5 linked regions of the Homo sapiens genome follow. The protein of the gene in region 5 purifies or fractionates together with the protein of the main gene of each other region. This does not show direct contact. Each region holds a gene or a part of one and is shown on either strand. Other genes may lie near its edges.

The links.
Region 1: the proteins of ERAP1 (region 5) and APOL2 purify together in Homo sapiens (affinity purification with mass spectrometry; 2 studies listed by BioGRID and IntAct, with this or other methods). This does not show direct contact.
Region 2: the proteins of ERAP1 (region 5) and POLD3 purify together in Homo sapiens (tandem affinity purification; one large-scale study listed by IntAct). This does not show direct contact.
Region 3: the proteins of ERAP1 (region 5) and MYB purify together in Homo sapiens (co-immunoprecipitation; one large-scale study listed by IntAct). This does not show direct contact.
Region 4: the proteins of ERAP1 (region 5) and MUL1 purify together in Homo sapiens (affinity purification with mass spectrometry; 2 studies listed by BioGRID and IntAct, with this or other methods). This does not show direct contact.

Annotation. Positions count from the first base shown.
Region 1 is NC_000022.11:36,227,925-36,234,379, reverse strand, and holds part of APOL2 (apolipoprotein L2), read left to right. Parts: intron 1-44; exon of another isoform or gene 45-144; intron 145-924; 5' UTR 925-978; intron 979-1,138; 5' UTR 1,139-1,217; coding exon 1,218-1,227; intron 1,228-2,913; coding exon 2,914-3,040; intron 3,041-6,099; coding exon 6,100-6,455.
Region 2 is NC_000011.10:74,614,894-74,621,348, reverse strand, and holds part of POLD3 (DNA polymerase delta subunit 3), read right to left. Parts: intron 2,813-6,455; coding exon 2,545-2,812; intron 1,333-2,544; coding exon 1,260-1,332; intron 1-1,259. UniProt on the Homo sapiens protein: Accessory component of both the DNA polymerase delta complex and the DNA polymerase zeta complex.
Region 3 is NC_000006.12:135,192,996-135,199,450, forward strand, and holds part of MYB (transcriptional activator Myb), read left to right. Parts: intron 1-842; coding exon 843-923; intron 924-1,360; coding exon 1,361-1,465; intron 1,466-1,964; exon of another isoform or gene 1,965-2,086; intron 2,087-2,752; coding exon 2,753-3,007; intron 3,008-3,730; exon of another isoform or gene 3,731-3,913; intron 3,914-3,965; coding exon 3,966-4,328; intron 4,329-5,912; coding exon 5,913-6,055; intron 6,056-6,455. UniProt on the Homo sapiens protein: Transcriptional activator; DNA-binding protein that specifically recognize the sequence 5'-YAAC[GT]G-3'. Plays an important role in the control of proliferation and differentiation of hematopoietic progenitor cells.
Region 4 is NC_000001.11:20,502,050-20,505,151, forward strand, and holds part of MUL1 (mitochondrial ubiquitin ligase activator of NFKB 1), read right to left. Parts: intron 1,261-3,102; coding exon 1,173-1,260; intron 141-1,172; coding exon 20-140; intron 1-19. UniProt on the Homo sapiens protein: Exhibits weak E3 ubiquitin-protein ligase activity. E3 ubiquitin ligases accept ubiquitin from an E2 ubiquitin-conjugating enzyme in the form of a thioester and then directly transfer the ubiquitin to targeted substrates.
Region 5 is NC_000005.10:96,782,110-96,788,564, reverse strand, and holds part of ERAP1 (endoplasmic reticulum aminopeptidase 1 isoform b precursor), read left to right. Parts: coding exon 1-34; intron 35-1,458; exon of another isoform or gene 1,459-2,015; coding exon 2,016-2,095; exon of another isoform or gene 2,096-2,593; coding exon 2,594-2,777; exon of another isoform or gene 2,778-3,180; intron 3,181-3,496; exon of another isoform or gene 3,497-4,484; coding exon 4,485-4,641; intron 4,642-5,329; coding exon 5,330-5,514; intron 5,515-6,455. UniProt on the Homo sapiens protein: Aminopeptidase that plays a central role in peptide trimming, a step required for the generation of most HLA class I-binding peptides.

The sequences.
Region 1 (6,455 bases), on a different chromosome or scaffold from region 5:
TTGTCTCAAGGAATAATGTTTTGTTTTGTTTTGTTTTCCTGAAGAAAAGACTACTGAGAGCCAGTAAGACTGAAAGAATGGACATCTTCATATCCTGTTAGTTTGAGTGTGAATTTGTACAGTTTTCATACAGAGTGGCTCTAGGTATAAAAACTTTTGAGATGTTAATAGCTTTTGACCTAGTCATTCTACTCTTAAAAGTATCTTAAGGAAATAATCTCAAATGTGAGCAGTTTTACGTGAGGGAGGATATTCTTTGTAGCATAATTTATATGAAGAATTAGAAACACCCTAAGGTCCATCAGCTAGGGGAGGACAGCAGAGGGGACGGGGAAGCATCAGGAGGGCTCGGCAGCCACAGCAGGGGCTGGGCCGGCATCTAGCAGGATCCAGGTCTTTGTGGGACAAAGAATCTTAGAGAAGCAACGGGGACACAGGCTGTCCACTGCAGCACCAGTGAGTTCACCAAGACGAAGAGTTGAGCACAGAGTGTGAGACAGGGATTTGCAATGAGGAGTCATTTACCATGAGCGTGTATACATGACTCAATATTGTATATTTAAGGGAGTAGAGCACAGTAATTGAAGACATGGGATTGAAGCAGAAGTCCTGGCTCTAGCACTATTGTGAAAACACCCATAAGTTCCCTAACTTTTGTGGATTCCTCTGTGTTCAAATGGGAAAGTGGTACCCATCTCCTGTCCTGTGTGTGATCATCGAATGAGATACATGTCAGAGGCCATGCACATCACAGACACACAATACACACTGGCTATCATCAACTAGTTATCATACATGTTCCCAGGCCCAGGTCATTGTCAGAATGTTCCCTCCCATCTCTATTCCTGTGTATAGACTCTGTAGTTTCTGTAATGATCAGATGGCTGCCCCTCCTCTGATTATCTTCTTCTCATACCCCTACAGGACAAGAGGACCCTGCCTTGGTGTGAGAGTGAGGGAAGAGGAAGCTGGAACGAGGTGAGTTTCTGTAAATACTAGCTGGCAGGGCCCCAGGAGATAAACACTCTGGACATTTGCTGCTACCACAGAGGGATCTGCAAAGACCCAGCCCCTCCAGCCTCCCTCTGTACACAGGAGGCTCACCTTCGATCCCACAATTTGTTTTCTCGTTCTCAAGGGTTAAGGAAAACCTTCCAGTCTGGACAGTGACTGGAGAGCTCCAAGGAAAGCCCCTCGGTAACCCAGCCGCTGGCACCATGAACCCAGGTAGGCTCGCTTCCTCTTTCCTGGCTAGTTCCTACTCGCACCTAGAATGGAGGGTGGCACCTCCACAGCTGAGTGAGCCCCAGAAGAACCCAGATGGACTAGGAGGCCAATGAGTCTGCCCCGAGCAGCAGAAGAGGTCACGTGGAGTCCCCCGACCCAGGGGTCTGGGGGTCATCTGCATCCTGACCTCTCCTCGGGGTGACACGGCCCAGGTGCCCACTTCCTCCCTACCCTGTCACCCAGCAGATGACTCAAGTGGGGCAGGACAGCCATGAGGAAGTGGAACAAGCAAGAGAGGGGAGTGGGGGAAGAGCAGGGTCCAGGAGGAGGGGAGGGGTGGGAGAGGAGGTTGACCTGCAGCCCTGATCTCTTATCTACCGCTCTTCTCCCTGCTGACCCAGGGTTTTTTCCAGCACAGGCCGGTCCCCTCCCTCCAGCTCTTGCCCTGCACCAGCCCCTCTGTTCTGAGTGGCCCTATGGGAATGTATCATGCTTGACCCAGCTTCCAACTTAAATGGACCCCGGTCTGGCCTTTTCCAAGTCCCTTCTGTGTGACCTGGAGCTCCTTACCTCCCCTCTCGTGTACCATGAAAATAATATTTCCCCATGTTGTCACGAAGATTAAATATTATAAGGGTACCTGGCCTGGCCAAAGCCTGCCACACAGTAGGGCCTCCCTAAGAATTAGTTTGCATCCCCTCTATCTCCTCTATCTATCCCCTGTTGATTCCAGGTGGAAGCCACCCAGTCCCCTCATCTGTGTTAGGGCACCCGCCCTGCACTGCCCATCACAAGCACCTGCTGACCAGGGATGACTGCCTCAGGCAGGGCCTCATTCCCATGATCTCAGATACCCCTTGTCAAAGAAAAATCTGAGGCACAGTAACATTTATTTGAATAAGAAGGAATTCATGAATTGAGAAAACCAAACTGGAAGAGGCTTCATGTTATGATGAAAAAGTGTCAGAGACAAGTATTTATCGAGTAAATATGAAACTGCAATAAGGACATTATTTGATTGGTTGCAGTTACAAAACTGCCTGTTTTGATTTACCTTTTTGGAAAATTCCTGGTCACATTGGTGCTGGTGGGTTTAGGAAGTTCTCCGAATCCAGGAGAGACCAGACCTTAGCCTTGTCCAGGTTTTTGACTCCACTGAGAGAAAAAATTTGAGTCAAAGAAAAAACAAATCAGCTGCAAAGCAGAAGCACAGGCTCAGGGATGGAAGTGCAGGTGGACTCAGAAGAGCCAGTTGGGCCCAGTGGGGTTTGGGGTTTCTGTCTTTGATGGTTTATTAAATTAAGGGGTTGGAGCCTTGGGAGGACTCTCTTGCTGGCTTGCGGCAGCTGCCTTTGCGCTGTGTGCTTACCTGGCCTTATTGTTTCTCTTTCTCTTCTTACAATAGGACACTAGCCCTCTAGTAGGATTAGAGCCCTACCCTTGTGATCTCATTCAGTCTTAATTGCTTCCTTAAAGGCCCAATCTTCAAATATAGTCACTCGAGTTTAGGGCTTCAGCATATGAATTTTGGGGGCACACAATCCCTCTATAGCACTGATGACTCCATCAAACATGTCCCACATCACAGTTGTCCAGGAAAAATTAACATGTAACCACCTAATGTGCAATGGCTGTTATGCTCCCCTACACTATCCTCCAACCTTATCCTTTCTTCTTTCCAACTAGAGAGCAGTATCTTTATTGAGGATTACCTTAAGTATTTCCAGGACCAAGTGAGCAGAGAGAATCTGCTACAACTGCTGACTGATGATGAAGCCTGGAATGGATTCGTGGCTGCTGCTGAACTGCCCAGGTAAGCTCCATGGGGTTAACTCCATGGGGCGCCCCAGCGATGCCACTCAGATCTCCCCTGGGCTGGTTGTCCCTGACAGGCACACCTCCTCCAGGCAGCCCCCTCTGCTGGGCTTGAGGATGACCTTCTCGGCACTCCAGGAGGAATATTTCCTCCATGTCCTTCGCTGGCAGTGAGTAGCCTCAGGCTGAGGGGATAGGAAGCCCACAGGAACAGGGTCATTTCTGCCATCTGCTGGTGATGGGAACTTTGCCAGTTACTTTCTCACTTTCAGCCTTTCTTCATCAATGGAGTTTTATTATGAGAAAAATGAGATCATGCATGTAAAGTGCTTAGCATAATGACTGACACATAGTAGGTGCACAGTTAACGTTAACATCTTACAAGCTTGGTGGAAAGAGACCAGGGTTAAGGATCTTCTTCTTGAAGATGGGAGCCCAGCAGGACTTCCTTTGGGAAAAGTCAGAAAAATCCTAACCTAAACAATATGTGTTCCTGGGGATGCTGGCTGGGGCCTTTTTTCTCATCTGAAGAATTCCACAAACACAGCAGGACCCTTCTGCTGGTCCAGGATCCTGAGAGGCCTAGTTCCTGGGCTCTGGGCTTATGTCATGGAGACTTGGAACTGTCTTCTGTCCAATAGGAATAGCAATTCAATGTCATAGGAGTGTGGTGAAGGCCTTAGAGGCAACTCCAGGTCAAAGGTGGGGAACCAAGGACTAAGATCCTGCTCAAAGGCCCAGAGAGACCGGGACCAGTGTCAGAGCCTGGAGTCAGGATGGAGTAAGAGTCAGCCTTGGTTTGGTAGGACAAGCAGGAAGGCTGGGGCACCAGGGCTGGGACTAGGGTGTGGAAAGAGAGGCACCAAGGGCTTGAAACTTAAGGAGGTCATGAACTTGCAGAGGACATGTGAGTGGGAGAGGGATATTTCTTCCCTGTCTGGATGATCCCAACACTCATGGGCATACAGGGTCATGGTAGCCTGTGTCTCTCACCCCATGCCTTGGAACTGGTGAGTTCTGGACTACCCTTTCAGACCTTCTTCTCTTCTACACAGAGAAGCTCCTTACCATGGCATGCCTTAGTGACCATTTCCAAAGTAGAATGAGTTGCTGCCAATTTGTGTAATTTCAGGGGTACTGAGCAGACTCACAAAGTCCCAACCGAGGAGGAAAACACTTCCTCTACCATCTTGACCAAATTCAGGTCTTTTCAGCATTAGCAATTTATATAGATGGTTCTGAAAGTGTCTTGAGTCTTCTAGTGGTTCCATAAAATTGCACATGGCCTTGCTGTGCACACAGGTGAAGCTGTCACTGCTAAGGCATCAGTTAGGCTGGTGACACCTGCGAGTGAGACCTGGAAGGTTGGGGGTGCAGGTGGTAGGTCAGGAGGCAGTAAGGTGGCTGGAGCGTCCATGTGGAGCCAGAATGAATAGCCAGATCTCCCACTCCAGTCAGCTGGGGCAGTGGCCGCACCCAGTAGCCTTCAGCCAGGTGAAAGGGCATGAGGCATTGGAAGGGAGCAGATGCCAGGCAAAGTGATCTCCTGTCTTTCTGAGGTTTTGTTTTTGTTTGAATTCAAAGTACTCAGAGATAGCCAGACTGCAATGTCTGAGGGCACCCTTACCTTTGACACCACCTGCAAATCTATGGGGATTCCTAAAATCATCCTTAGATTTTATAATTCACTAGAAGGACTCACGTAACTCACTGAAAACTGCTATTGCACGATTGTGGTTTATCACAGGGAAAGAACACAGATTAAAATCAGCCTAAGGAAGAGACACACAGGGCAGAGTCTGGGAGGATTTCAGGTGTGAATCTTCATTGTCCTCAGGAGGCTGTGTTCTCCTGTGTGAATGTGGGACAAAACACATGCGGTGTTGCCAACCAGGGAAGCTCACCCAGTTAAGGAAAAATTCCTGTGAATCACATTAAACCAGAAATGAAGCCTTTATTCAGGATTGTTGTTACAGGGGAGGGAGACTGAGCCCAGCTCCAAATATAGTAAAGACAGAGGGGGAGTCACAGCCAACACCAGGGTGGGGGCGGGAGATGGAACAGGACTGACAGGAGACGCCAGAGTGGGGGGTTCCTGCTAAACTGGCCTAACAGGATTCTCGCCAAAGGCAGGTCAGACCCTCAACCACCAGTGGTGGGGGTGAGGAGCATGATCAGATAACAAACGGTGCTCAGACAGCAAGCGGGGAGGACCCTCCCTAAACTGATTTGGGGAGATTCTTGCTGAGCCAAGGTGGTGCAAGTCCAGAAAGCAGTGGGTGAGTGTGGAAGGCCAAGGTCGGCGCCTAGTGGAGAAGAAGCTCTGAAGAGCCCAGCTGGAGTTGGTCAAGGAGAAAGTCCTTCTTTCTCAACCCATGCCTTAGTGTCCAGAGTATCTGCTGGGGCTGGATCACAAGCTGCCCTCATGGCTAGAGTCTCCAGCCCTTCCCTGAGATCTCACACCTTTAGTCCCCAAGTCCTCTGGAAGTCAGGAAAGACACCAAATAGCCCCAAACCCTATCATCCATCACATCGCTATACTGTCCCGTGGCCAAATCACCAGGCAAAGAAAGATGTTCCTACCAGGCAGGACATTCCAGGGGCCTGGAGATCACTTCCCAGGAGCTGAGGACAAAGGGAAGGCCTCTCTTTGGGTAAAGTTCATGCTTCACTTTCCTGCCATCCTGGTAATAAGGTCTCTTTGTCTCACTCTCACTGCTCTTTGTTCATCTGCAGAGTTTTCCCTCTCCAAACACTTTGGCAGTCACGGTGTTGACCTGCCCTTGAGTGAGGAGGCATCTTTATCAAACACCTACCATGAAAGAGCATCTGAGGTGCCTTTAAGATATTTATTTCCATATGGAATAAGTACTGAGGAATATCTATGATGAACAAAATGTGTTTGAGTTTGAAAGATAATTAATTCCATTTGTAAAATTTGTTTCTATTTGATTGATAGTGAAAGCTCTGCAATTTACACAGGATAGAGATCGCATGGAGCTCATTTCACAGATAGGGAAACTGCATTTCTTAATCCTTTAACCTTTCCTTGTGCAGGGATGAGGCAGATGAGCTCCGTAAAGCTCTGAACAAGCTTGCAAGTCACATGGTCATGAAGGACAAAAACCGCCACGATAAAGACCAGCAGCACAGGCAGTGGTTTTTGAAAGAGTTTCCTCGGTTGAAAAGGGAGCTTGAGGATCACATAAGGAAGCTCCGTGCCCTTGCAGAGGAGGTTGAGCAGGTCCACAGAGGCACCACCATTGCCAATGTGGTGTCCAACTCTGTTGGCACTACCTCTGGCATCCTGACCCTCCTCGGCCTGGGTCTGGCACCCTTCACAGAAGGAATCAGTTTTGTGCTCTTGGACACTGGCATGGGTCTGGGAGCAGCAGCTGCTGTGGCTGGGATTA
Region 2 (6,455 bases), on a different chromosome or scaffold from region 5:
TCTCATAAGGAGCCCGCAATCTAGATCCCTCACATGTGCTGTTCACAATAGGGTTCACAATCCTATAAGAATCTAATGCCACCACTGATCTGACAGGAGGTGGAGTTCAGGCATAATAACGCTTGCTCATTTGCTGCTCACCTCCTGTGCCACCCGGTTCCCAAGAGGCCACGGACTGCTACCCATCAGTGGACTGTGGGTTGGAGACCTGTTTTAACAGAAGTAGGAAGCATTCCCTGTGCACCAACTGTGCCTGCAGTAATACAATAATGCTTCCGAGTAACCTTTAAGTATCACATTTTCCATTCACTTTTCTAGTTACCCATTCTGAGCTGCAAGAACACAAAAACGTTCTCTGATAGCTTTTACAGCAAACACAAAAACTGTCACCCTTACATAAGCAGAATATGAAAAAAAAAAAAAAGTCACTTCAATCCCTCCCGTGACCACCAATTTAGCCATCATGGAAAGGCAGAATTCTAACTAATTTTGCTTGCATAGGCATGTAACAAAATGCCTCCTTGAAAAATCTTTGTAAAACTGATGCTCCAAGAAAGTGTGCCATAATTATCCTGTGGCTCCTGCATTCTTCCTGGTATTCTACCACATACTCTCAGGGGATGTACACTTGATATGAGAAGTATGAAAATATGTGACTACTGGTTCTTTCCATACGAAAGAATTCTTACTTAAGTATCTTTTTAAAAATAAAGAAGATTTTTGCTTTCTCAAAAAAGATTTTTAAATGTCCATTACTACTTGGGCCCTTCTAATTCACACTGGAAGTCTAATTCATTACTGTGAGTAATCTGCAAAAAATAACTGAAGAAAGGCAAAATATTTGCTTTTGTGGACCCTTGAGAGATAGAAGAAATAAAGGTCACACCAGGCAAACTGACTCTAGCATCCACGTTATTAACCTCAACACTATACTGCGTAGCCAGGCAGCCTCCCTTTTATTTTAATCACCCATTTTCAAGGGCCCTATGAAGCAAATAGTTCATTATCTTTTCAAGGCAGGAAGTTAAACCAGGAATAATAAACTGCTCTCAAAGAGATCTCAACTGAGCCTAACTCACCCATAAAGTTCTAGCTGAGTTACTTTCATCAATATATTGGGCAGTACACTGGAAATTTGTTAGAATGCAGGTAGTCTCTTGGATTGGCAAAAACTAGACAAAGTGGCTTTCACTTCAGGTATAATATGTCATTACATTAACATTCATTCGTTAGTCAAAGTGAGGTAAGAACATGCTTACTCATAGCAGCTTTTCCAAAAAAGTTGCTCATCATATTCCCTTTCCCTGGTGCCTTGTTGCCTGCTGCAGATGCCTACAAGCACAGAAAACACATATGATTTTTTGCTGGCATTTAGGCTGTTCATGAAGTAGCAGTCTCAAACAAACTCTTCTATAGCAAACTGTTGCGATGGTATAGTCTCTATATAATCATGCCAAAACGCGTAGGTGTTAGATATAAGAACAAATCTAGAACAATAATCCACACCAGACAGTAACTGGTGTTAATCTCTAAAGCTTAGTTTCTTATATATCTTATAAAATTAATTATCCATGGATATAGCTAAACTTTTCTTGAGCACATTTAAAAACTATTTAATTTGACAGAATTAAAAAAGATCAGAGGCAGTATGTACACAAAGCGGGAAAACCTAAAACATTACATTTTTAATCATCAGAAGTAGATCTGAATTCCTGGTTCCCACCATTTAGTAGCAATATGGGCTCCAGGCAAATTACTTAAGTCTAGGTTTCAGTTTTACCATATGCGAAAGGGAAATAGTTAATATCTCCCTCACAGAACTGATAAGAGGATTTAAACAAAGACACTGGCACACAGTTGAAATTCAATAAACGTTAGTGTTTTCCTCCATCCTTCTTCTTTCCCAAGACAGACGCTTGAAAATGACAGTGATCTGAATTAAATACACTTGACACTGGAAAATGACAGTGATAATAATAATAGTAACAACAATAATTATGCTTTTCTGGATTTTTAAAATAGTATCTTAATGATACTTTTCTTAAGTCAATGCCCTTGAGTTAGTTCAGATGACTGAACAATAAAAATCTAAGAGAAGCAAATAAGGCAAAAACAAAACAAAAAAACCTGCATAAAGTATAAGAATGGGAAATACACTAGGAAGGAAGGTATATGTTGCAAAGCCCAGAATATAAGATGTTCCTCAGAAAGACATATTGCAAATAAACATTTTTTTGAATGTCAACAATTCTCGAGGTGTTTTCACATGTTTTCATCTGGGTTTCACAACAATCTTGTAATGTGCACAAGGTAGGCATTACCATTTTGCAAAGGAAATCCAAGGTTTGGTGAGAATCATTATCAAAAGCAAAAGAACTCTTTCAGATAACAATATCAAGTATTAAAGGGTTCAAACTAAAGTAGAAAAATCAGAACTGAATATCAGAATCTTATATAAATAAACTACTACCACTGCAACCATTAATGCTTTTCTAGTTACCCACTCTGAGCTGCAATGAAGGGGTATCTTCAAAGAAGACTTACATTTGTTACTTCTTTAGCCTCTGTTTTCGTTTCCTTGTTGGTTTCTTGGGTTTTAGCAGCAGCTTTGGAGGCAAACATTCCCATAATTCCTTTGGGCTGCTGGGAAACCTGCTTGGATGCAGGTGGGCCATGACCATTGGTGGTCAGCTCATTGTTGGCTTGTGTCTCACTTGACATGTGAAGATGTGACTGCTCAAACTTTTTGGAAGACGAAGAGGATTCAGCAGGAGCTCTAGGGACGGCAGCTGCACATTGTATAGCACTAAATCTGGGGACAGAAATGTTACATTAAGTTAATGTCAGCATATGCATTCTTGGGTGGTTCAACAAAAAAAGAAAAAAAAAACTAATGTCAGTATAAAACTTTATTTTCAAACTCTTGCTTCTTCCACACAATACTTAACTCTAATATTGTTTAGAATCGACTTTAGAAAAATGTATGAAACTCTCTATTACATAAAGAAACAAATATTAGAGAGAAGTGAGTCACTTTTACTAGGTTATACATCTAGTTAGTAATAGATAGGATTGGAATTAGGTGCCTTCTACCACTAATTGAATATTCTTGTTTTTGATAAAAGTATTCTAATTCAAAAGAGTAGGAATGCAACCAACAATAATAAAAGATGCAGTAATTTCATTATCCTTGGGAAATGAAATAGCCTTTGTTTTTAAAGACCTTCCTCTGATAGGGCTAGATTTGCAATATTGACTGAATCAAAACTAAGCTTTAAATATTAACAAATTTCCTGGCAACTCTCTTGGCCAGAGTAAATCATGCTGTAGGGTTGGGCGCATTGGCTCACGCTTGTAATCCCAGCGGTTTGGGAACCTGAGGCGGGCGGATCGCTTAAGCCTAGGAATTTAAGATGGGCCTGGGCAACATGGTGAAACCTTGTCTCTACAAAAAATACAAAAATTAGTTGGGTGTAGTGGCGCATGCCTATAGCCCTGATTACTCAGGAGGCTGAGGTAGGAGGATCACCTGAATCCAGGAGGTCAAGGCTGCAGTGAGCCATGAGCTCATCACTCAACTCCAGCCTAGGAACAGAGTGAGATGCTGTCTCAAAATAAATAAATAAATCATGCTTTAAAACAAAGAAGAGGCCAGGTGCAGTGGCTCACGCCTGTAATCCCAGCACTTTGGGAGGCCAAGGCAGGTGGATCATGAGGTCAGGAGTTCAAGACCAGCCTGGCCAACATGGTGAAACCCCGTCTCTACTGAAAATACAAAAATTAGCTGGGCGTGGTGGCACGCGCCTGTAGTCCCAGCTACTCAGGAGGCTGAGGCAAGAGAATTGCTTGAACCCAGGAGGCAGAGGTTGCAGTGAGCCAAGATCACACTACTGCGCTCCAGCCTAGGCGACACAGCAATACTCTGTCTCAAAATGAAAAACAAAAAAAAATGGGAGAAGCTGGAAGCAGAGCCACTGGCTCCTATAACCTATAGTCCTTTACAGCCATTTGTTAATAATTTCTAATAATACTAACAGCACCGGACAAGTAAGTATGCCCAAGGCCAAGAGAAGAAAATTGGTGGAACAGCTTGTGTGGCATATTAAAGGGAACATACATCTCTCTCTAATCATTATAGAAGTGCCGTTTCACACAAATCCATAATGTAACATTCCACATTGTGAATGGGTAATTGATTTAGCCTTCTCAAAGGATTGTACTTAAAGCAAAGTTCCCCAGCTTTTTCTAACAAAGAAAAATATTTTATTTTTCCCAGTCTTGCTTATTGAGCATATGTAAGACCTCCTTGAAGTCTTATTTATCTTTTTTATTTCAGGCACCCAGCTCAAGACCTGGCACATAGAAAAGTGCTGGAAACGACATGTTGAAAGAATGACTAAGTGAATGAAAGTGAGGCTTCTGGCTTCTCTCCCTTCTTTAGTGTATCACCTTCAACTTGGGGTGGGAGATTTCTAAACTATGTGGTGATGGCAATTATCTTAAAAGATCAACCAGGCACAACTTCAAGATTAACTGCTAGAATACCTGGCCTAATGAAAAAAAAAAATCCCTGATACATCATTTCATCTCAGAAGTAACTTTAGACTGGGCAGCCCCAAAGCTAGAGTCAAAAGCTCCAAAAATCTTCCACTGATTTATTATGGTCTTCATCAGAAAACTCTGTATTTACACACATCTTTTATGCATCAGAGTTAAGAACAGACGGAAATCATTTGCTTTCACCCACTGCTCTTCCTCTCTGACCTTGCAGTGCTTCCATATACAAGGAAAAGAGTAATGTTTTATTTCACTGTCAACGTCTGAAGTTGGCCTTGAAACAACTCTTTCTCCTCTGGTCTGAATTCTACACCATAGGGTCAGGACCAGGAATTGGCAATGAGGAAGAGACCGAGTTAGGCTAGGAGTATGTCTGATGACAAGAGATCTCTGCTCAATCCTAAAATTTCAACTCTCTTCATGTCACGGCACTTCTTAAAACACACGAAATCATAAGTGAGATCTCAGTTGGCCCATAATTCTCAGGACTAAATACAAACTCATTTGTTGGAGATAAATTCACTTTTCTACTGAGGATACTTTAAGTATTTAGGTAAAGTTTCACTGAAGTGCTTCCTATTACCACATTTCTACTTGCCATGTTTATTTTAGTGGGCCCTGGCAGATTTCATTTTGAACTTTTGCGTCACTTTTATTCTTGTTTGCTTACTTGCTAGATATAACAAGGGAACTGATTTTTAGAGCCTGGAATACCCAACTAGATTTTAAAATTTTTTGAAATCTAGTAATATATTTCAAATAAACTTATCAGGGTGTTAATATTTTCTTGAAATCCTTCCCTAAAAGATAAGAGACTTGTAAATTATTCCTCTTTGGCCATATATTTATTTAATAAATATTTGTATGCTTATTATACTCAAGGTTTTGAGCTAAAGAAAAAAAAAGAACTAATGTCTATCATTAATTCACTCAGTAACTACTTATTAGTGTGCCAGGCACTATTTTGGGTATATAGTTAACAATTTAGACACGATCCCTATTCTCATGGAACTTATAGAAACTATGGCAATTCTATATCTTTCTCTCCTTGAGGACCCATCTTTATCAGTCATACCACCTCCCCAGGATTTTCAACCTTTTCTTCCTACAGCACCTTTCTAACAACCCAAGTTCAAGTCATTCTCAACTTAAGAAATGTATATATCCTTCCCGTCTCAATCCCTCCTTAGCTACCACCCTCTTTTCTGCTTTGCAGTCTAATCTCCTGGAAAGAGCTGTCCATATTTGCTGTCTCACTTCCTCTGTCCCCATTTACTTAGCTCACCAGAATCTGGTCACTCCACTGAAAATGCTCTTACCAAGGCTATCACTAAATGTCATGGACAATTTTCACTTCCTAACTTACTTGGCTTCTCAGCATTGTTTGACATTGTTGACTGGTTCCTCCTACTTGAACCTCTTTCCTTAGGGGCTGAAACCCCATATACTCTTATCTCTGGTGGCTCCCCTTGGGCCCCTCTTTTTCTATTCTTCCCTTGAAAAGCAGCTATCATTAAATAGTGCTTACTATGTGCCAAGTGCTATTCTAAGTGCTTAACATATAATAGTCCATTTAATCCTCTACAACCCTATCTGGCTGGTACTACTGTCAGCTTTACTGACAAGAACAGGGAGGCACTGAGAGGTTAAATAATTTGCCCAAGGTCAGACAACTAGTACTTTGGCCTAGAGTTTTACTTTCTGCCCTTCTTTCATTCTATACATTCTCTCTGATAACTCTATCTACTGCTATGGCCCATTTACTATTCTGATTTCAAAATCTCTATCTTTACCCCAGATTTCTCTCCTTAGCTCTAGATTCACCTATCTTTTGCGATGGACATCCTCACTTGGATTTCTCACAAGCTTCTCAAACTCAACATCTCTAAAACCCAATT
Region 3 (6,455 bases), on a different chromosome or scaffold from region 5:
AAATTCAGTGGTTATGGTATGTTTCATTCTGGCAGTGATCAGGCAGACATGTCTTAATTTATTCACTCAGTAAGTGTTTACCTTCTTACTCTGAGTCAGGAGCAGAACTTTGTGACATTCATTTTCTGATGTCTCCTTTTAGTCTCCGTTGGATCAGTGTGATCCCTTCCTTATTTCTAGATATTTATATTTAGGGAAAGTGATAATCCATAATAGGTGGAAAAAGAAGAAGAAAGAGGAAAAAAATCGAGAAACTTTAATCTTAAGAATAACAATATTAAATGATAAAACTTACCCAAGAATAGAGAGCTCATATGCAAATTATATGCAAAACATGTTCATAAATAGTTTTTATTCTTCTCTGTCCATGGATTTGACTACAAACTTTACAGAAAGGTCTCAGATGAATAAATTATCATAAGAATTCCTGTGCTTTTTATTAAAACTCAAAATTATTCCAAGAAAAATATTTTTATTTACAAACAGCTGGTGCCATCAATTTTTCCCATAGAAACAATTTTGAAACATTCATTAATGTATTTTATAATATATTTTTTATTGTTTTTTTCATTGTGTTTTTCTCTAATTAAGGAACACTTCCCAAAATTTAAAGTGCTCATCAACACCTCCCAAGGATTTTTCACCATGTTCCTTTAGCTGTTTAGCCATTTTAAAGGCCTGGCTAAATTTCACATTAAAAGGTTTTAAAAATTTGTTTAGTGTATTTTATCAGTAAAGTGTTTTTTTTCTCTCAGTCCCAGAACGAAACCTCAGGAAGCCAAGTCCCCTGAAGCATATGTAGCCCTGAATGACGTGGCCTTTGTTTTGTCTTTTGCATCTAGGTCTCCAGTCATGTTCCATACCCTGTAGCGTTACATGTAAATATAGTCAATGTCCCTCAGCCAGCTGCCGCAGCCATTCAGGTAAGATCATTGATCATTCACTGTTCAAAGCACCACTTTTAAGAAATGCTTATTTCTTTCATCTAAACACATATTTTTACCTGAGCAACTAAAGTAAAAAGGAAAGGGAACATGGAGAGGAGAGCAGAGTCTTGGCCAGCAATCTATTAATCTTGTCTTCTAGAATGAGTTTGCTCTGGAATTTTCTGATTCTTTGATGTTGCAAGGTGAAATAACTCATCAGTCAGCATCCACTCTAGCCTGAGATTTCACATCACTCCCTTAAGTCTGAAATAACATTCACAAAGATTTCTGCAGGAGCCAAATTTGGTTGGTGGTGTTGTCACAGTGAGGCTCTTTGGGCTGTGCGGCACCTCATGACCATATTGGCTACACCCATTGTATTTGCAGCTTCCAATCAGACCTTTGTCTTTATTTCCCTTACTTTGTAATTTCAGAGACACTATAATGATGAAGACCCTGAGAAGGAAAAGCGAATAAAGGAATTAGAATTGCTCCTAATGTCAACCGAGAATGAGCTAAAAGGACAGCAGGTGCTACCAGTAAGACTGTCATCATGTGCTTGAATGAGGGGATAGCAGCTTTGCCTCAGTTTACCTAAGCGCTCTTCTCTTCTAAATATTACACTTAGCAAGGCTCCATATATCCATTCAGAATGTCTCAACACAAGAAGTTGCTTGTAGTAAAATGTAGTTGGTATCAGATTATATGCTGATTAAATTGGAAGCAGTCTTTTTGTAATTGCAATAAAAATGCAATATCCACTTATGATTGTTATCATCAATTTTTTTCTTCAGAAGGACTATAATCAGTTTAAAGACTAGCAAAGATAAAATGAATGAAAATCTGCATTTTCTACAGAGCTATGTATCTATATGGTACCATTTTGGTTTTTTTCTATTATTTTGTTAACCTATATTTTCATATTTTATAATTTCAGACATGATTTGATGCATGTTCAGTATATACATGTAAAAGGTTATATATAAAACCTCTTCATAAATAACATTAGCTGCTCTCTTTTATTTGCATGTGTGAAAGTTATGTGGGCCATTACTGAATTCTGACATCTTTAGCGACTGGGCAGCCAACTGGGATGGCTCCTTGTGCTTTGCAACATACATAGTTAACCAACAAAGACAATAAAAGAGAAGTGATGCCCAGTAGGTATTCCTAGGGGTAAATTTATTTTTTGTTAAATAATAAGATGTTTATGTGCACATGCTAGTTCGACCACTTTTTAACTTTAGTTAATGTTTTGCAATTTCTCCTGTTGTGTGGTCATACTGTAAGGAGACTTCTGTTAATTTGCTCTTCTGCTTTCCTAACCACGTTGATTTGGCAGTGCTTCACTGCATCAGTGCAATCTGTAGCATTAGAAAGGGATAGAAGCAACAAGAATATGTGTAGATCAAAGCAACTCTAACTCCTGAGTCCTCTAGCTTTTTTGTGGTTAGAATGCAAATAGGACAGTTCTTCAGTTCTTCACTCACAGCAAGCATTTATGGACCTTTGGCAAATTATATTAAAGTGGAATTTTAAGACAATATGATAATTATACTTCGAAATATAGACCTATGATTTGACATTTTTACAAAATGATAACAAGGTAATCATATAGGTACAACCTCTAGCACTATTAAAAACAGGGTCTTGCATTGATAAAAGGAAACATCTTGACAACTGTTTCATAGGCGTAAGTTTGGGATGATGCAACTACTCTTATCTTTCCTCCAACAGCATCTGATACCTTGTGCAACTTCATTGCTAAGTTCCTTCTCCCTTTCTTCTGTCCTCTCTTTATTTCTACACCCTTCCCCCTTCCTTAGACACAGAACCACACATGCAGCTACCCCGGGTGGCACAGCACCACCATTGCCGACCACACCAGACCTCATGGAGACAGTGCACCTGTTTCCTGTTTGGGAGAACACCACTCCACTCCATCTCTGCCAGCGGATCCTGGCTCCCTACCTGAAGAAAGCGCCTCGCCAGCAAGGTGCATGATCGTCCACCAGGGCACCATTCTGGATAATGTTAAGAACCTCTTAGAATTTGCAGAAACACTCCAATTTATAGATTCTGTAAGTAGAATTGTGAAGGGAAGTTAACGATTCTGGAAGATAAATTAGAAAACCCATTTCTTAAATCATTGCCATTTTCTATAGCCAAGCTGTTATTAGCATATATTAATGTAAAGGTAGAAGTATGATTTTCATCTTCATGAATATGTTTTTTCAAAGATCTGATTTCATAGCCTACCGAGAGAGACAAAAGTATTTATAAATACTTACAAAATAGGACTTTTGAAGGAAGAGTTTTTTTTCACATTTTCACACTTTTCCTTCAAAAGTCATATTTTTAAAAATAGTCAGATTGATGACTTATAAAGCAGAGCTTGGATTATGGGAACGGAATGGTGTTTGAGTTACTTTTAACTTTTTTTTTTCTTTGCTTACTTCATGGTGCTTCTCTAGAATTTTGTCTTGCTTTTGAACAGCACATTAATGATTTGGCTTACTCAGAGCTGAAAGCAATCTTTTAGTGTATTTGAAGTAATAATCAGCTCCTTGGTCATACCTGGCTCTTTCCACAAAATGGTGATTATTGATTACTGGTCCCATTGCTTCACTGAGATGAATCATCTTTCGTGAAACAAATTTGTATTCAGCACCTCCTCAGCGAACACTTGGTTCCTTTCCCAGTTGATTAAAAATCATTTATTGCACACTCATTGGTTAGGAGATGACCATTGCCGTAATATGCCATCTAGAAAAGGTCTTCATTTTGCTTTCCATTGCATGCAGATGTAGAGTGTCGGGAGGTCCCTGCAGCACATCAGAGGGCCAGCCTTGAGGCAGCCCACTAGACCCTGCTCTACTGCAGTATAATAGAGCAACTGCTCATCTTGAAGCTGTTGCTCAAGAAGCCAAACCAACGGGCCTAGTGTTTGCTTTGCGTTGAGCATCTCTCTCTCAGTGCTGTTTCAGGTGATGATGGCACACACTATCTCAAAGTTCTGTGCCTCCCACATTGTTTCAGGATTCTTCATCATGGTGTGATCTCAGCAGTTTTGAATTCTTTGAAGAAGCAGATTTTTCACCTAGCCAACATCACACAGGCAAAGCCCTACAGCTTCAGCAAAGAGAGGGCAATGGGACTAAACCTGCAGGAGAACCTAGCCCAAGGGTGAACAAACGTATGTTGAGTGAGAGTTCACTTGACCCACCCAAGGTCTTACCTCCTGCAAGGCACAGCACAATTCCACTGGTCATCCTTCGAAAAAAACGGGGCCAGGCCAGCCCCTTAGCCACTGGAGACTGTAGCTCCTTCATATTTGCTGACGTCAGCAGTTCAACTCCCAAGCGTTCCCCTGTCAAAAGCCTACCCTTCTCTCCCTCGCAGGTAGAACACAATTTCTGCACAGCTGTTACTCATTTTCAACAGACACCTGAGCCTTAATAATCTAGAAACTAATACTTCGGAACAAATGACTAATTACTGCTGCCTTTGCTGATTTCATTCTGTCGTTGAATCTAGCTGTTGCTAAGTTATACTGCCTCCCAAAGTTTAGGCTGTCTGCAGGCTAACTGTTGATTTTGGCATCATTCTCTCTCTTTTACTTTTGGGTGGTTTTGAAAGATAGTTGCATGAAACGTACTTTTATTTCCTTCAACACTAGAGTTTAACATTTCTGTCCCTTTCTTTTTCTCCCATCTGATCCCTCCCTTTAAAATTGTTAACATCATTTCTTCCTCGTTGTTCATTTATTCTTATGCGATTCACTGACCCAGGGGAGGAGGGAACCAAATTGTGTTTATATAACATTTGGGTTGCAACTAGAAAATTTAAAGCTAGAAAATTTAAAGGTTCCAATTCATCTTTAAATGGAAGAGTTTGGGAAGAGGATGAGAAACAAATGCTTAAGGAAAAGAACATATTTTTAATTTCAGTTTCTCAACATTGGCTCTTTTGAGTTGTGCCATACTATTTTACTAGTGCAGTTTTTGCCAAGGAATATTTTTATTTCATACAGCTTTTTTAAGGCATGAAAATCACAATTCTTATCAGAGATTTGTGTTCCTAAATTATTTAAATAATTAAATTAATAGATAATTTGGCACTTTAAAACATTTTTCCAATTGTATCTGTTGAATTTGTTTTAAGAACAGATTTAGGTATGATATAGGTATATACATTTGGGAAACACTGAATCAAACAAAGTTACAAGTAGGTTTCTTAGCTGGGCATAGTGGCATGGGCCTGTAGTCCTAGCTACTGGGGAAGCTAAGGCAAGAGGATTGCTTAAGCACAGGAGTTCAAGTTCAGCCTGGTGAACATAGCGAGATCCCATTTCTTTAAAAACTTTCTTTTTTTTAACTGCAGGCCTTCTCAGAGTTATTAATATGCCGTTGTGCCTTGTGAATTTCCAGGAGGAGATTATGATATGTTGTGTTTCCCAAATTTATTTTACCTTGGAATTGTTTAAGGAACACCTAGTTTTTTCCCAGAACTTTAGTGTTCTGAGAGACACAGTTTATTATTCAAGAATTTTCCATATAATGTAAACCTTCTGTAATACTAATTTTGGTTCATAGATTATTAAAGAGAAAAAACAAAGTATGAAAGGAAACTATTAATTATTAACTATTATTTTCCCCAAAATCACTAAAGCCTTTTAAATGTTAATAAAGAACACATCTCATTCTCTTTAATGACAAGTGTCATTTATTGAGAGTATTTTCTCACAGTTTTGCAAGTTTTTCAGCAATGACCCTAAATTTTATTTCTTGGAAACCACACCCAAATCCTGGGTGCTCAATTGAAATAAAACAATACCCTAGTCAATATAACATGCTTGTTAGCATCTTTATTATTTAATATAGTGGGTCAGGAAAACATTCTTGTTATCTAGGTGTGATTTTTAAATTGGGGAGAATAAAGAATTACCATCTAATCTAAGTATTTTTTCTTTCTCTCCATATTTAGTTCTTAAACACTTCCAGTAACCATGAAAACTCAGACTTGGAAATGCCTTCTTTAACTTCCACCCCCCTCATTGGTCACAAATTGACTGTTACAACACCATTTCATAGAGACCAGACTGTGAAAACTCAAAAGGAAAATACTGTGTAAGTCTTTGGTTCAGGAATAAAATGATTTATCTTATTTACTTATATTTAATTAATGGAATATAGTTCCCAGATGTCTGATCCACTTGTATGTGCATAATTTTACTGACCATTTATATATAATCATGTCTATTCCCACATTGAATATATCTGTCCTGGGCATATTACAACTACCTACAGGTAGAAGATGGGAAGATAAACTAGATTCCTTTTGTAACTTACTCCAAAATTTCCTATATATGCACAAGTAGTTTTCATAAAACTTTTCCATTCGGTTTGTTTGTTCCCTCCATAAGGCCTTCTTATGAAAGCCAGATTTTCAACCTCCTTTCCTCTCTAATTGTAAGCTTCAGAATAAGAACGAGTATGGTTTCTTACCTAGTTTGTATTTTTATTTAAT
Region 4 (3,102 bases), on a different chromosome or scaffold from region 5:
GTGGAGAAGTGATACATACCAAAGGTGGGTGGTTCGATTCCACACCATCTTGTGCTCCTGAAGTGTCAGCCGCTGAATTACCCCCTTGCAGTTTTCCACAAACTGGCTGTTAAGCGTTTCTTTAACAGACCGCACAGCTCCTAAGTGGACACAAATTCTATTATTTCTGAAGAAGTTTTCTGCCCTCTCCTTTCAGATAATTTAAAATGTGTTTTCTGGTCTGGCACAGTAGGTCACACCTATAATCCCAACACTTTGGGAAGCCAAGTCAGAAGGATCACTTGGGGCCACGAGTTTGAGACCAGCCTGGTTAACACAGTGAGATTCCATCTTTACAAAAAATTAAAAAGTTAGCAGGGTGTGGTGGCATGTGCCTGTAGTCCCAGATACTTGGGAGGCTGAGGCAGGAGAATCACTTGAGCTCAGGAGTTTGAGGCTGCAGTGAGCTATGATCACACCACCATACTACAGCTACCTGGGTGACAGAGCCAAGACTCTATTTGAGACGGAGTCTCACTCTGTTACCCAGGCTGGAGTACAGTGGTGCAATCTTGGCTCACTGCAACCTCCGCCTCCCGGGTTCAAGCAATTCTCCTGCCTCAGCCCCCCGAGTAGCTGGGATTACGGGTATGTGCCACCACATCCAGCTAATTTTTGTATTTTTAGTAGAGACGGGGTTTCATCATGTCGACCAGGCTGGTCTCAAACTCCTGAGCTCAAGTGATCAGCCCATCTCAGCCTCCCAAAGTGCTGGGATTACAGGCATGAGCTACCACACCTGGCCTCAAAAAAAAATTTTTTTTTTAATTTAAAAAATGTTAAAAATTAAGTGTTTTCAGTTGACTTTTGCTAATTCATCAAAACAATGACATTCTGATCACCATAAGTCACATTTTAGAAGCACTCTCCTAAGCACTTTGCATGGATCACATAATTTGTCTTATAACAACCCCATAAAGGTAAGTATTATTTTCGAGATCAGGCAACAGTGGTTCAGGGAGGTTTGGTAATCTTAGCGATCACAAAGCAATAACCCATGTCTTTCTGACCCCAAAGTATGTTCTGGACCATGGACCCAACACCACAAAAGGCTCTTCATATTAGCCAAGATGATCTTTATCAATCTTTTGGGAAAAAGACGTTGTTTTCCATTGACCAATAAGCAAACATACCTTCTATAACAGCATAAGGCACGCATTTTCCTGGAGCTTCTGAAAGAATACTCTTTAAATCTTCACCCAAATGAACTTTTTTAGCTCCCTAAATAAAAAAAAAAAATTAAATTAATTGGCCATTGAACACTGACATGCTCAATCAAACTTACAGGCAAAAAAAAGAAAAAGATTCTATTTTTTTCGTGTCAAGAGAATATGGAAATTGGACAGGAAGGTGACTACTGAGAATCAGATTTCAAAGCTGTGTACATCAACAGGAATGGAGCCATGCCTCTGCCTCTTCCATCACTGCAGAATGGGGGTGCCACATACATTCTTGTTCCAGTTAACCAAAACCTATACTCCTTTTCATGTTAAGACTTTTTAGTGAAAATATAAAAGGTACTAGTCAATTTACATACCACAGACTGAACATCATTCAATCTCTTCCTGACAACACAGAGCTATGATCCAAAGGGTTCAGGTATAAAGTACCTAACCTATCACCTAGCACATGGCAGTGGTTTGAGAACTGGTAGGTGTTATTATTAATATTACCACATCTTTACGAACCAATGCTCTGCATTGTATGTTATTAAAAAAACAAAGCAGGGGGAGTTGCCTTTGCTTCAACAGGAAGACTGTTAACTGGTGCCAAATGCCATTCTACATTTTTTTTTTTTTTTGAGATGGGGTCTCACTGTTATACCCAGACTGGAGTGCAGTAGTGCAATCATGGCTCACTGCAGCCTCAACCTCCCAGGCTCAAGTGATCCTCCCACCTCAGGCCCCCAAGTTGCTGAGGCCATAGGCATGCACCACCACACCTGTCTAATTTTTTTATTTTGCAGAGACAGGGTCTCCCAATGTTGCCCAGGCTGGTGTTGAGCTCCTGAGCTCAAGCGATCCTCCTGCCTCGGCCTCCCAAAGTGCTGGGATTACGGGTGTGAGCCACCGCACCCAGTCTGTTCTACTTTTTGCCTTTTTCATGCTCATAATTAAGTGAGCACGGTTCTTTCTGCTGCTGTCTTCCTCTAACAATCCCTAGTTCTCCTCTGCCTTCCAACTCAGAGCGTCCAACCCACTGCACTTGGGAAACCAATCCTGTTACTGCTGTTTCAAAAATAAGAGAAAAGGAATAAAATCAACAATCATTTCCTGAGCATCTTTGTGCCAGGCACTGTGCTGGGTGTCAGAGATTCAGGACGAATAAAGGACCATCTCTGCTTTCAGGGTATTCCCAAAAACAACTCTTAAGGATGCCAGATTCAGTAACCTCTAAAGAGGTGATGTGATACAAGATGTATATGAAGGTCACTCTGAGTTTAAGCTACTGCTACACAGTAAGTGACAGGAGCAAGGTCAATCAAAATTTCTTAGCCACTTACACTGTGAAGATACCAAAATGACAGCAATAACAACTAACAATTTACTCATTATCTGTCTCCCTCCACTAGAATGTTAAACTCTAGGAGGGCTTGGACACTGTTTGTCCTGTTCACTGCTATCCCCCTAGTGCGGAGAACTGTGCCTGACACACAGCAAGCATTTAATACATTATTTGATTAATAAATTAATGAATAAGTAAGCATTTAAATATACTATGTACCAGGCAATATGCTAGGCACTTTAAATGCATAAACCACTTAATGCCCACACCATCCCTTTACGGTAGACATTATTATCACCAATTACAGACAAGGAAACAGGCTCAGAGAGGTGAAGTGATTTGCCCAAAGTGAGACAGCTAGTAAAGTATCCACCACAGGATGGCCAATTCGAATTTTAAAGGGGGAAGAGGGAGAATATGATCAGAAAGATCTGGAGTTTAATCTAGCGCCAATGCATCCACTGTGACTTGGGACAACTTCATTTATCTGAGTCTCAGGTTCCAAAACCATAAAGGACAGGGAAAATGCAATTTCACAGGATTTTTATGTGGGTTAAA
Region 5 (6,455 bases):
ACATGAAGGGCTCTGACGGCGCCCCGGACACTGGGTAATGCTCCTAGAGTAAAATTTGTTTTGTTGTCTAGGTAACATCTGCCTTGTAGGATGGAACCTTGCTTTTGAAATAATGCCCTTACCACTATTGCTAAAATATTTCAGCTGCATCTGTGTATCCTATGAAGTTGACTTATACTCCCTGCCCCCATCTTCCCAGTAGGATTAAGGAGGCTTTAAACCTTGGTTATTCTCAGTAAAGGTGACGATGTAATTACTTTAACATTCTCATATTTTGTAATTTGATATGATGGTAATTTCTGGTTACTGGCTTGAAATCAACTCCAACCTAAGCAACTGCTACTAGATTACAATAGTGCCTAGCATTTGGTTGGAGCTGAGGACAAAAGAATTTAGGTGATTTCCGAGAATGATGAGAGACTCAGTTGTCTTCTTCTGAGTTAGATTTGGAACCTGTTTGTCAGCTTAATGCTATAGAAGAATATTATTAGAAACAAGATGCTGCAACTTGATTGACCCTGGATGGATACCGTTAAAAAATTCTTTTATCTTGAAACAATTTCAGACTTATAGAGAAGTTACAAGAATAACACAACAAATTCCTATATATCCTTTACCTAGATACATGTTAACTCTTTACTCCTTTACTTTCTTCACCTCCCTCTCTCTCTTGCTCTCTCTCTCTCTCTATATATATATGTATATGTTTGTGTGGATATATGTGTGTGTGTATATATACATATATATGTGTATATATATACACACACATATATATATATAATATATACACCTCCCTCCCCCATCTTCCCAAAAGGATTAAGGAGGTTTTAAATCTTGATTAATCGATATCCATCTATCTACATACATACCTATATACATATGTCTGTATGTATATACTTGGCATATGTTTTTCTGAACTGTTTGACAGTAAATTGGTGACATGATTCCCCTTCACACCTAAATGTTTCAGCATAGTATTTTCTACAAAACAACATTTATGGCCGGTCACAGTGGCTCATGCCTTTAATACCAGGACTTTGGGAAGCCGAGGCAGGAGGATCACCTGAGGTTAGGAGTTCGAGACCAGCCTGGCCAACATGGTGAAACACCATCTCTACTAAAAATACAAAAATTAGCCGGGCATGGTGGCGGGCGCCTGTAGTCCCAGCTACTCAGGAGGGTGAGGCAGGAGAATCGCTTGTACCCAGGAGGTGGAGGTTGCAGTGAGCCGAGATCGCACCACTGCACTCCAGCCTGGACAACAAGAGCGAAACTCCATCTCAAAACAAACAAACAAAAAACAAGAACATTCAGTTATATAACCATAGCCACAGTACAATTATCAAAATTGGGAAATAAACTTTATATAATACTATTATCTATAAATCCCATTCAACTTTTTCCAATTGTCCTAAAAATATCCTTATAGCAAAATAGAAAATAAATTCTGACTTAGGATTTAATACAGGATCACTTATTTTATTTAGTTGTTGCATCATTTTGGTCTCCATTTTTTTCTGAAACAACTCTTCAGTCTTTTTTGGGCTTCTCGATATTGACATTTTTTGAAGAGTACTGGCCAGTTATTTTATAGAATGCCTTTCAGTTTGGATTTTCTGCTGTTTCTCCATGATCAGGTTCAGCTTACATATCATTGACAGGAATCCCAAGGAGGTGATATTGTGTCCTTCCTAATATACTATTCAGGAGGCACATGAGTCCTGAAGTTAGGCCTCTGAGATGCAATCAGCCAATCACTGTAAAAAGGCTTTCAGGGTTCACGTGAGTCCAAATTCTTAGCTCTACTCAAGGAGTCCAAGAAAAGGAAATAGTGCCCGAGCTGACACTCCCTACAAAGCTGGAAAACAGACTGGGGATGTTTTGAGAGCTTGGCTGTAGCAGTTTTGGTACTATCTTGTTCTAAACTAACCAGTGCCTGGCACATGATAGGTGATTTAATAACTGCTTGTTGAATTGAATCAACAAATGAACAATCCACCTCTCCTTTATTTTAGGTACCTGTGGCATGTTCCATTGACATTCATCACCAGCAAATCCGACATGGTCCATCGATTTTTGCTAAAAACAAAAACAGGTAATTTATTTTGGAAACTACTAGTTAATTCAAGGAGGAATGTGAAAATGTGTAGGATTAAAGTGCTGTTTCTTTTGCTATTTATCTTGGTTAAAGCAAAAGGGATCAGATTGAAAATGCTTTCTGGTTTCAAAGAAGAATGGCCAATATCTTGCCAGATAGAGATTATAGCTGAATTATATAATGCTAAAAAGGAGGGATTACCAGTGAACATTCACTATTACTTTGTTAACATTACTGGGTTATATCATATGTATGGCCAGAGATGTAGTTGCCATTCTTTTCATAGATCTGTAAATCTCACAAAATTGATGTCTAAAGCTAGTGTTAGCTTTTGTCTATTGAGTTGCTGTTTTCTGGTTTCTGAGAGAAATAAGTGATGTTTTCAAATTTTTCAGTATTAAACTCTTCTCTAATTTCCTTGCCCAATCTTGGATGAGAAAAGCTTTCTTCAGGCAGGGGAGCAAATGGAACTTTGATTTATTTTATTTACTCTAGATGTGCTCATCCTCCCAGAAGAGGTGGAATGGATCAAATTTAATGTGGGCATGAATGGCTATTACATTGTGCATTACGAGGATGATGGATGGGACTCTTTGACTGGCCTTTTAAAAGGAACACACACAGCAGTCAGCAGTAATGATCGGGCGAGTCTCATTAACAATGCATTTCAGCTCGTCAGGTAATACACGCTGCACAAAGTCGCGGTTTATTTCTGAAAGCAGCTGTTATTGTTCAAATTCTTGATTTCTAAAGACAAAAATGATTGATTGATAACAAGAAGTTGAAAGGTGTTTTCCTTTAAGTTCTTCTAACAACCCAAGATTGCTTTTAGTCTTATAATTAACCTCCTGTCTGTGACTACTAAGGCACTTGAAGGAAGGAATCTGTATCTTAATCTTTCTCATTAATAATTCAGATCATACTGAGGCGGAAGTGTAGATAACCAGGAGATCAACATCCTGGCGAAACTCCTTGCCTTGTCCCCGCGGCATGGTCCCGCAGCTTCTTCTGGCCCCGCTATACCGGATCAGGTTTCTCCCACCACTGGGTCTTTATAACAGCCTTGAAGTCTTCTTAGAAGACTAAGTGACACAGGCCCAAGTTGTTTGCATTACATTTCTTGGGTTAAAGAAGGGATTTTTTTTTCTTTCCTAAACCAGATACCTGAACTTTGCAGCATCTTTATGGAATATAGCTCATAAAATGTAGCCCAACCAAATGATCTCTGAGTGTGTGAAGACAGAATTAACACTACCCTTTTTTTTTCCTCCCCCATGACAATGGTTTTTAAGGAAATGCTCCCAAAGCCTAAAACTCAAACTTCTTCAACATGTAGGCAGACCTAAAGTCCTAAGAGGAAGCATGCAGGTGGGAAGGATTATCTCTTTCTCCTCATACCCGTATCCTTCTGGCCTAAATTTTGAGTGCCTTCTGGTTCTTCTCACCACCATACTGGGCCTCCTGAAGTGAGAAAAAGCAATGGGGGAGAAAGTTATGGGTTGCTTACCTAGCTGTTTCTTTCTGCCTAAAAAATTCCCCTCTGTAGAATATTTCTGCTTGAGCCTTAGAGGGCTTCTTCTTTTTTATTTTTTAACTTATATAATATATACCCTACCACTGAGGTTTTTAACACTAACCCTCTGTAATGAAGGGTTTCTAAGGATATGCAGTGTCTTTGAAATGGAGAAGAAAATGTGTTTCCTCCAGGAACTCATGGTTTTGACCAGATGATAGTCTGTTTGACCAGGCTTCCTAAAGGGTCTTTGATGGAAATCCCTTGCTTACTCTAGAAGTTCACCACTCAATCCAGTGTTTCACAGGGATAGATGCTGATGTGCTTCCTTTCCGGCTTATCCACGTTAGCCCTAGACGTTACTGTTTGAGAAACTTCCTCCCTAGTGTAAACATGCCGGATGTTGTGTTATATGTGATAGAAAAGAGACTTATATAGTAGTTATCTATCTGTTTGTTTATTTATTTTTTGGAGATGGAGTCTCACTCTGTCGCCCAGGCTGGAGTGCAGTGGTGCCATCTCAGCTCACCGCCTCTGCCTCCCGGGTTCAAGTGATTCTCCGGCCTCAGCCTCCCACATACCAAGTACCTGCCACCATGCCTGCCTATTTTATGTATTTTTAGTAGAGACGGGGTTTCACCATGTTGGCCAGGCTGGTCTTGAACTCCCGACCTCAGGTGATCCACCTGCCTTGGCCTCCTAAAGTGCTGGGATTACAGGCATGAGCCACCGCGCCCGGCCGTAGTTATCTATTTATAAGGGACATTTATATCTGATTGCTTGTTTTGCTAGAAGATTAAAATATATTTTGAAGCAAAAAGTTGACTTCCCGGATTTACTTTTAAACCACTAACCACAGTGTCTCTTGGTCAGCATTGGGAAGCTGTCCATTGAAAAGGCCTTGGATTTATCCCTGTACTTGAAACATGAAACTGAAATTATGCCCGTGTTTCAAGGTTTGAATGAGCTGATTCCTATGTATAAGTTAATGGAGAAAAGAGATATGAATGAAGTGGAAACTCAATTCAAGGTAAAAGCCTGAAATAAAAGTTATGTAATTATTATTTGTGTTAAAAAGTGTTAATCATTGTGTGTGTATGTGTGTGTGTGTGTGTGTGTGTGTGTGTGTGTGTGTATCTTTATATACATATTAAGGAAAAGCAAATAAATATTAGTTCAGTATTTAGATGGACTAGCAAGATTTTGGTTTTATTTGGCACTAAAAATAGGAATGGCATTCTTAGACTCTATTTAATTTGCATGGATTTGTTATTTCCTTCCTTTCACAAACCTTTTATTTCATTTTCCTTTCCTATTACAATGGCTGACGTTCAGATTTTCTGGGACTCTTCATGGTACTTGAGGAAGAGGCACAAAATTGTTATGCTTGGCAAAATGTCCTGAAGTCTTGTTGCATAATTTGCTCTCAAAATTTAGTCATGTAAACTCTCTTTGAGTTTGTTTTAAAAGTCGCAATTCATCCTGACTTTAAGTAGATGGATATCTTATAAAAGTTTGTTATGAAAATATGAAAGTCATTCATCATTATTTATTGTTTTTGGCCCTTTTATAATTAAACAGTGCTGCATGATTTATACAGTAAAAGTTAGATTATGCTTTAAAAATTAGCCCCCATCATCTGAGACCATAATGGATTATATTAACATGAAATGACCTGTGACAATACTGGTCCCTGTTTCCCTGTACAACGCCCTCAGGCCTTCCTCATCAGGCTGCTAAGGGACCTCATTGATAAGCAGACATGGACAGACGAGGGCTCAGTCTCAGAGCGAATGCTGCGGAGTCAACTACTACTCCTCGCCTGTGTGCACAACTATCAGCCGTGCGTACAGAGGGCAGAAGGCTATTTCAGAAAGTGGAAGGAATCCAATGGAAACTTGAGGTCAGTCCTTACTAAATAACCAATTTGTTGATGTGAAGGGCATCTTTTCTGTTTTCCATCATTGGTACTAAACATTAGGGAAAACAAAAAGTTTAAGTGTCTCCCCTGCTGCCCTTTTCTGGAAAATAAATTGCTTTTTAAGATTTATCTATGTATCTCGTAACTTTAAGAAATGCTAGGAGGGAACTTCTATGCATAAAAGTCAAATATCTGGGGAGTTAGGATGGTATGGGAATAATTCTCATTTTGTATAGGCAATGCAAAATCTTATTAAACGGTGACAGCCATGCCATAGAGAAACACATGCATTGTATTTTATAGTAGTTTCTTTGGGCTTCCAAATTCCCTGACAGGGATGCATAGTAATTGCTGACACTGTCTAAGCAAGGTAGGATTTTACCGTATCTGGAAATCCCTATTCTTGCTACACTTCAGTCCTTTTTACATTTGGAGCTTAAACCCCACCCAGGAAACATTTATGCCAACAACCTACATGCTTCAGCTTAAAGAAATCCAAACAGTGGTCCTACTGCCGTCCTGACTTGTGATCATGGTGTAAATTTTGAATATAGTTTGAATTTCTTTTGGCTTGAAAGGTGATCCCCTATGGAGTCACCCAGCATCATTAAAGTATTTAAATATGTAGGTATTTATAAAAATGGCATTTCACATTTTTGAGAAGGCTACTTAAAACCTAATTTTAGATATTTTTCTCTTGCCTTTTTTTTATAAAGTGTAACTAGGCCAGGCGCGGTGGCTCACGCCTGTAATCCCAGCACTTTGGGAGGCTGAGGTGGGTGGATCACGAGGTCAGGGGATCAAGACCATCCTGGCTAAGACGGTGAAACCCCGTCTCTACTAAAATACAAAAAATGAGCCGGGCATGGTGGCGGGCGCCTGTAGTCCCAGCTACTCGGGAGGCTGAGGTAGGAGAATGGCGT